2 separate regions of the Homo sapiens genome follow, and region 2 is linked to region 1. Evidence: fine-mapped expression QTL. A gene starts in region 1. The other region holds a variant in brackets. All regions are shown on one strand. Distances are from middle to middle. Region 1 holds the start of TRAPPC6B (trafficking protein particle complex subunit 6B). Region 2 has its middle 28 kb from the start of MIA2.

Region 1 (4,387 bases):
TTGCTTATTATGTACTTTCAATTTTCCCCCCCATCATAAATACACTGCAGTAGAAAAAGAAAGTTATTTTTAGCTTAAATGATTCAAAACTATGAACTTCCTTTCTCTTGTATGTTAGTCCATCTCTTAAAATTATCAGGCCTGAGTAGAACAGCTCTGTTCATTTTATTTAGGATTAACCCACGGGAAAAAAAAAAGATATTTTAAAAAGAAGAAAAAATATTATTCTAGACAAGAGTCAGAAAAGGGCCAGGCGCAGTGGCTTACGCTTGTAATCCCAGCACTTTGGGAGGCCAAGGCGGGCAGATCACCTGAGGTCAGAAGTTCAAGAACAGCCTGGTCAACAGGGTGAAACTCCGTCTCTACTAAAAATACAAAAAAATTAGTCAGGCATGGTGGCCGGCACCTGTAATTCCAGATACTCAGGAGGCTGAAGCAGGAGAATCGCTTGAACCCAAGAGGCGGAGGCTGCAGTGAGCTGAGATCACACCACTGCACTCCAGCCTGGGAGACAAGAACAAAACTCCATCTAAAAAAAAAAAAAAAGAGAGAGAGAGAAGAGGAAAGGTAAGAAGGGAGGGGAGAATGAAGAGAACTGAATACGCAAGTGGTTTGGGGGGATCGGGGGTTATGACAAAAAAGTAAAAGGGGTGTGTTAACTGTTCTAGAGGGAAAAGGAAGGCTAGCTTTGCACAAACAGTAAACCTTGAGGTCAATAATAAAGTCAGAAGTTTGTGACTTGAAAAAAATCTCTATTATAGATGGGTCATTTGAATAAGAATAGAATTCGCTTCATTTCCAATAACCTTCCAAATGTATCCTGCCTATCCTTCTTGTGCAAACTGGCAGTACCTTTTTTTGGATGTCATACAGGCACCTCAAAAGTTCAACCTGCCCCGAAATAACTCATTATCTTACCTCCTTATTTTTTTCTTCTCCTTTATTTCCTTTTCTGATTAATAGTACCACCATCCAACCCAGCTGCTCAAGCTGAAAACCTGACGATAATTTTCAACTCCCACTCCCATCCTTAAACAAGGCCTACAGAATTCCACTTTCTAACTTTCAAATCTGTTATCTCCTTTTCTCACTATCCCTGTCTTAATCCAGATCTTCATCTCCTCCTGCAGTGACTCCCGTAATAAAGGATTTTCCCCCTACAAGGATCTTCCCTCTCTAGCCCAAACACTGGATTACTTTTCTAAAATGCAAATGGTCCACATCATTCCCTTCCTTAAAAATATTCCCTCGAAAAGATCCGAATTCTTTAATTACACAAAGCTTTCTAACTTCACCTCTCAATTCTTCTCACTCTCTATTCAGTCTAGTCCAAAGAAATGCTTAAGTGTATTTAAATCCACCACTCTTTCATACCTCTACCACTTTATCTTTGCCTAGGATACATTTCCTATCCCCACTCTCCACTCATTTTTTATCAATAGCATTAAAGAAAGGGCTCCTGACTTGAGCATGACTTTGGAGTATTTCTAAAATCCGTTACAACTCCATGATTCTACCAGCCAATACTCAGTGTTAACTATTCATTAAATCACTATTCCCTAAATACTGTGAGGCAGGAGTATTATTTTATTTAATTTATCTAGCAGTGTCAGCAGTGACAGGCCCACAATGATTGAATAAGGACTCCCACATATTAGAAGTAACCGCTACATACTATCACATTTCGGATTAAATTAGATTAAAAAAAAATCTCTACAAGGATGGGGCCATTGTTTCATTCACTACTATATCCCTGGCACCTAGAAATCGCTCTGACATAAGGGCACTAAATAAATACTTTCTGAAATAATTAATTTAAATTATGTTCCCTAATTATCCTAACGCCTGCAAACTTTCCTTTGCAAACTCAACCTTCATTAGGCTTCAGGTCTCAAGTTGTGTGGAGTTGTACTGAGCATTAGGAATGAGGAAGGAGGGACAGGCTTCTCAGGTTGGCACAGGTCTGTCCAGTGCATGGCTCAAGTGCTGGAAGTGCCAGCAAAACTAAGTAGGCTCTGCAGTTAACCCTCTCGTAAATAATGGCAGGGACAACACTAAAAGTACCAAAATCTGTGGCGTGCAAGACAAACGTACGGGAATAGACAAAAGAGAATCAAATAGAAGAAGATACGAAAGAGAAAACGATGAAAGATGACGGTTCAAAGGAGACAACTGACAGGTTCTAGGGTTTAGGACACCTGGAGGTGGACCATTTTGTGTACACCTCGGGAGGCGTCGGGTGGCGATGGGACAGGGGTTGAAGGAAAGCACTGAGGGGAAACAAGGTGTGTCACCGCAAAAGGACCTCAAGGTTGTGTGGCAGCACTCACCACCTCCCCCTGCTCCGCGGACTTGTACACTCCAGACACCATCTCGTTATGGAGAAGCAAAAACAACGCCTCATCCGCCATTTCCTGCTAATTCTTCCAAGCTTCGAGTTTTGGCTCCCGTTTGAGCTGGTCTGGGGGTTCCAGCTCGCGCCTCAGCGACTTCGCCGGCGCCGCGGCTCCGTCAGGCCGCCATTCTATCCCTGTGGCTAAGAGACCGAGGTATTCACACGACTTCCCAAAGGCTGGTACTGAAATGAGTCTGGTACTGGAGAGAGCCCACACTTCGGGGCTACCAAATCCTAGGGCCGAACTAAAGTCTGACGGGAGCTCTAACCAAAGCCAACCAGCTGAGATGCGATCCGGCCGCTGGGCGGGGGCGAAAAAAACAACTTCCGGTCCCCTCTACCCCGGCATTCGGCCAGCTCTATGATCACTGAGTTCCTCTCTCCCAAGCCCGGAGAGGCCAGCGCCCAGATATGAGGAAGGTTCCCCTCTCACCACGATGTCGGGGGCAGAGCAAGATAAAATAAGACCTAAAGCTCCCGCCTGGCCCGGGCGCGGTGGCTCACGCCTGTAATCCCAGCACTTTGGGTGGCGGAGGCGGGTGGATCACATGAGGTCGGAAGTTCGAACCAGCCTGAGAAACCCCGTCTCTACTATAAGTACAAAATTAGCGGGGCCTGGTGGTGCATGCCTGTAATCCCAGCTACTCGGGAGTCTGAGGCAGGAGAATCGCTTGAACTCGGGAGGCGGAGGTTGCGGTGAGCTGAGATCGCGCCACTGCACTCCAGCCTGGGCAACAAGAGTGAAACTCCGTCTCAAAAAAAAAAAAAAAAAAAGAGCTCCCGCGGCCACCTCCTTGTTAATTAGCAATAGAAGTTAAAAAAATTCTTTTGGCTTCATCAAAAGCATCCACTTCCTGCCATATGTTCTTCAAATATGAAAAGTTGTAGAAAGAGTTTAAAATATACGTTTTCACAGTGCAAATTTTTTAAATATTGAAAAGTTATCCCAATTCCTATTGAATTAAGCCCGGGTATACAAAAAGAATTAGAGCCATTTTGACCACCAGGAATTTTCCTGTTAGTGGGGTGCAAGGGACAAGGGAAGTGGAGCAAACGAAAAACAAGATACACTTGAACCGGAAAATACAGACTAATCAGAGGATTAGGTGAAAAGTGCTATAGAATTCAGAAAAGCGATGTCACTGCAGGATGGAGTTGCTAATAATCTACAGCAGTGTGAGACAACTGTAGGAATTGTCCCACTGCATGTGCAAATAAATACACATGCTACATCATAGTATGTACATCTTAAATTTGGCAAATTCAACCGTAAGCATGTTGCTTAGCCTGTGATTAGTTCTTCCATTGGTAATTCACAAAACAAAATTTTTCCCCAATTGTCCCTGTTGTTTTCCCCCAAATTAACATACCGCAAGGTGGCTCATGCCTGTAAAATCCAGCACTTTGGGAGGCCGAGGCACGGGGGGTGGGGGGGATCACGAGGTCATGAGTTTTGAGAGCAGCCTGGCCAACATGGTGAAAACCCGTCTCCACTAAAAATACAAAAATTAGCCGGGCGTGGTGACAGGTGCCTGTAATCCCAGCTACTCGGGGGGCTGAGGCAGGAGAATCACTTGAACCTGGGAGGCAGAGGTTGCAGCGAGCAGAAATTGTGCCACTGCACTCCAGCCTGGGCGACAGAGCAAGACTTCGTCTCAAAAAACGAAACACACACACAAACTCTTCATGCCCTTTCACAGGAATTTAAGATCATGTTCCAAAATTTTAATTGTGGTAGGTTTTTTTTTTAAGCATGTCCCTTCTAATGTTTGAATCAGTTTATTCCATTCATCACGTAAATCCAGCATAAAAGCTCCACTTAAGCCTTTGAAAACACTAAATTGTGTAATTTTGAAGAGTATTTTGCCATGGTAATCTTAATTTTTCCAGCACTAAATTTTCAGTTATGCGAAATCAGGTCCTTTATGTCTAGATGACATTCTTGCCCTCATCACTACCATCAAGAAAAAGGAGTCCAAGTCCACCACACAA
Region 2 (4,387 bases), 36 kb after region 1:
TGTGTGGGAGGTGGATGAGGCCTGTGACTGCCAGCTTTCCCCCACTTCCCTGACAACCTGCATGACTCAGCAGAGGCATCTATAATCCTCCTAGGTACACAACTCCATTGACCTGGGAACCTTACCCCATCCCCCACAGCAGCCACAGCAAGACCCGCCCAAGGATAGTCTGAGCTCAGACATGCCTAGCCCTGCCCCCACCTGATGGGCCTTCCTTATCCACTCTGGTAGCTGAAGACAAAGGGCATATAATCTTGGGACTTCAAGGGCCCCACCCACCACTGGTTCCTCTCCATACTACCATAGTTGATGCTCTCTGGAAAGCATCACCTCCCAGCAGGAGGCCAACTAGCACAAAAATAGAGCATTTAAACCACCAAAGCTAAGAACCCTCACAGAGCCCATTGCGCTCCCCTGCCACCTCCACCAGAACAGGTGCTGGTATCCATGTCTGAGAGATCCATAGACAGTTCACATCACAGGGCTCTGTGCAGACAACTCCCAGTACCAGCCCAGAGCTGGGTAGACGTGCTGGGTGGCTCGATCCAGAAGAAAGACAACAATCACTGCAGTCTGGCTCACAGGAAGCCACATCCATAGGAAAAGGGAAGACTCAAGGGACAAAAGAATCTGAACAACAGCCTTCAGCCTTAGACCCTCCCTCTGATAGAGCCTATCCAAATGAGAAGGAACCAGAAAACCAACTCTGGTAATATGACAAAAAAAGGCTCTGTAACACCCCCCAAATAATCACAGTAGCTCACCAGCAGTAGAACCAAACCAAGAAGAGATCCCCGATTTACCTGAAAAAGAATACAGGAGGTTAGTTATTAAGCTAATCAGGGAGGCACCAGAGAATGGTGAAGCCCAGCACAAAGAAATCCAAAAAACAATACAAGAAGTGAAGAGAGAAATATTCAGGAAAATAGATAGCATAAAGAAAAAACAATCAAAACTTCAGGAAACACTGGACACACTTATAGAAATGCAAAATGCTCTGGAAAGTCTCAGCAGTAGAATTGAACAAGTAGAAGAAAGAAATTCAGAGCTCGAAGACAAGGTCTAACAAAGACAAAGAAAAAAGAATAAGAAAATATGAGTCTGGGCAGGGTGGCTCACGCCTGTAATGCCAGCACTTTGGGAGGCTGAGGCGGGCGGATCACGAGGTCAGGAGATTGAGACCAGCCTTGCCAACAGGGTGAAACCCCATCTCTACTAAAGACACAAAAATTAGCTGAGTGTGGTGGTGCCTGCCTGTAATCCCAGCTACTCAGGAGGCTGAGGCAGGAGAATCGTTTGAACAAGGGTGTCGGAGGTTGCAGTGAGCCGAGATGGTGCCATTGCACTCCAGCCTGGCGACAGAGCGAGACTCCATCTAAAAAAAAAAGAAAGAAAGAAAATATGAACAAAGCCTCCAAGAAGCCTGGGATTGTGTTAAATTACCAAACCTAAGAATAATTGGTGTTTTGAGACTAGCCTGGCCAACATGGTGAAACCCTGTCTCTACTAAAAGTACAAAAAATTAGCCGGGCATGGTGGCATGTGCCTGTAGTCCCCGCTACTCAGGAGGCTAAGGTAGGAGGATCGCTTGAACCCAGGAGGCAGAGGTTGCAGTGAGCTGAGATTGTGCCACTGCACACCAGCCTGGGCAACAGAGTGAGACTCTGTCTCAAAAAAAAAAAAAAGAAAAAGAAAAAAAAAGGAATAATCAGTGTTCCTGAAAAAGAGAATTCTAAAAGCTTGGAAAACATATTTGGGGGAATAATTGAGGAAAAGTTCCCCAAACTTGCTAGAGACCTAGACATCCAAAAACAAGAAGCACAAAGAACACCTAAGAAATTCATCACAAAAAGGTCATCACCTAGGCACATTGTCATCAGGTTGTCATCAGGTTATCTAGAGTTAAGATGAAGGAAAGAATCTTAAAAGCTGTGATACAGAAGCACCTATAAAGGAAAACCTATCAGATTCACAGCAGATTTCTCAGCAGAAACCCTACAAACTAGAAGGGTGT[G/A]GGGCCCTATCTTCAGCCTCCTCAAACAAAACAATTATCAGCCAAGCATTTTGTAACTAGCAAAACTAAGCATTGCATATGATAGAAGGATACAGTCTATTTCATACAAACAAATACTGAGAGAATTCACCCCTACCAAGCCACCATTACAAGAACTGCTAAAAGGAGCTCTATATCTTAAAACAGGCTGGGGGCAGTGGCTCATGCCTGTAATCCTGGGACTTTGGGAGGCCGAGGCGGGTGGATCACCTGAGGTCAGGAGTTCAAGACTAGCCTGGGCAACATGGTGAAACCACATCTCTACTAAAAATACAAAAATTAGCTAGGCGTGGTGGTGGGCCCCTGTAATCCCAGCTACTTGGGAGGCTGAGGCAGGAGAACCACCTGAACCTGGGAGGCAGAAGTTGCAGTGAGCCAAGATTGTGCCATTGCACTCCAGTCTGGGAGACAGATTGAAACTCTGTCTCAAAAAAAAAAAATCTTAAATCCTGGAAACACATCAAAACAGAACCTCTTTAAAGCATAAATCACACAGGACCTATAAAACAAAAATACAAGTTAAAAAGCAAAAACCAAAACCAAAAAACCCAAGGTACACAGGCAACAAATAGCACAATGAATGCAATGGTACCTCACATTTCAATATTAACATTGAATGTAAATGGCCTAAATGCTCCACTTAAAAGATACAGAACTGCAGAATGGATGAGAACTCACCAACCAACTATCTGCTGCCTTTAGTAGACTCACCTAACACATAAGGACTCACATAAACTTAGAGTAAAGGGATGGAAAAAGAGATTTCTTGCAAGTGGACGCCCAAAGCAAGCAGAGGTAGCTATTCTTATATCAGATAAAACAAACTTTAAAGCAACAGCAGTTAAAAGAGACAAAGAGGGACATTATATAATGGTAAAAGGCCTTGTCCAACAGGAAAATATCACAATCCTAAACATATATGCACCTAACATTGGAGCTCCCAAATTTATAAAACAATTATTAATAGACCTAAGAAATGAGATAGACAGCAACACAATAATAGTGGGGGACTTCAGTACTCCACTGACAGCACTAGACAGGTCAAGACAGAAAGTCAACAAAGAAACAATGGATTTAAACTATACCTTGGAACAAATGGACTTAACAGATATATACAGAACATTTCATCCAACAATCACAGAATACACGTTCTATTCAACAGCGCATGGAACTTTCTCCAAGATAGGCCATATGATAGGCCACAAAATGAGTCTCAATAAATTTAAGAAATTGAAATTATATCAAGTACTCTTTCAGACCACAGTGAAATAGAACTGGAAATCATCTCTAAAAGGAACCTTCAAAACCATGCAAATACATGGAAATTAAATAACCTGCTCGTGAATGAGCACTGGGTCAAAAATGAAATCAAGATGGAAATTTAAAAATTCTTCAAACTAAACGACAATAATGATACAACCTATCAAAACCTCTGGGATACAGCAAAGGCAGTGCTAAGAGGAAAGTTCATAGCCTAAAAGCTTACATCAAAAAGACTGAACAAGCACAAACTGACATTCTAAGGTCATACCTCAAGAAACTAGAGAAACAAGAACAAACCAAACCCAAACCCAGCAGAAGAAAGGAAATGATCAAGATCAGAGCAGAACTAAATGAAATTGAAACAAAAAAATTACAAAAGCTAAATGAAACAAAAAGCTGGTTATTTGAAAAGATAAATAAAATTGATAGAGCATTAACAAGCTTAACCAAGAAAAGAGGAGAGAAAATCCACCAAATAACCTCATTAAGAAATGAAACAGCAGATATTTCAACAGACACCACTAAAATACAAAAGAGCATTCAAAGCTACTATGAACACCTTTATGCACGTAAACTAGAAAACCTAGAAGAGATGGATAAATTCCTGGAAAAGTACAACCCTCCTAGCTTAAATCAGGAAGAATTAGATGTCCTGAACAGACCAATAACAAGCAGCAAGATTGAAATGTTAATTTAATAATTACCAACAAAGAAAAAGTACAGGACCAGATGGATTTACAGCAGAATTCTACCGGACATTCAAAGAATTGGTACCAATCCTTTTGACACTATTCCACAAGATAGAGAAAGAAGGAACCTTCCCTAATTCATTCTATGAAGCCAGCATCACCCTAATACCAAAATCAGGAAAGGACAAAACCAAAAAAGAAAACTACAGACTGATAACCTTGATGAACATAGATGTTAAAATCCTTAACAAAATACTAGCTAACAGAATCCAACAGCGCATAAAAAAGATAATTCACTATAATCAAGTTAGTTTCATACCAGGGATGCAGGGATGGTTTAACATATGCAAGTCAATAAATGTGATACATCACATAAACATAA

Evidence for each region. PIP is the estimated chance that this variant, and not a neighbour inherited with it, causes the effect.
Region 2: its variant is the best candidate, but not a certain one, in a credible set for the expression of TRAPPC6B in whole blood (INTERVAL, PIP 0.88).

Annotation. Positions count from the first base shown.
Region 1 is chr14:39,167,685-39,172,071 of GRCh38, forward strand. It overlaps TRAPPC6B (trafficking protein particle complex subunit 6B), which reads right to left and starts at 2,649. Exons shown (of 6, transcript NM_001079537.2): 1 at 2,331-2,649. The coding sequence starts at 2,411. RefSeq lists enhancers at 2,107-2,696, 2,456-2,505, 3,287-3,876.
Region 2 is chr14:39,204,049-39,208,435 of GRCh38, forward strand. It overlaps the pseudogene LOC100313942. Among named protein-coding and RNA genes, the nearest start is that of MIA2, 28 kb to the right of the region's middle. RefSeq lists enhancers at 1-214, 1-893, 215-982. The variant G/A (reference allele first, on the strand shown) is at 2,015.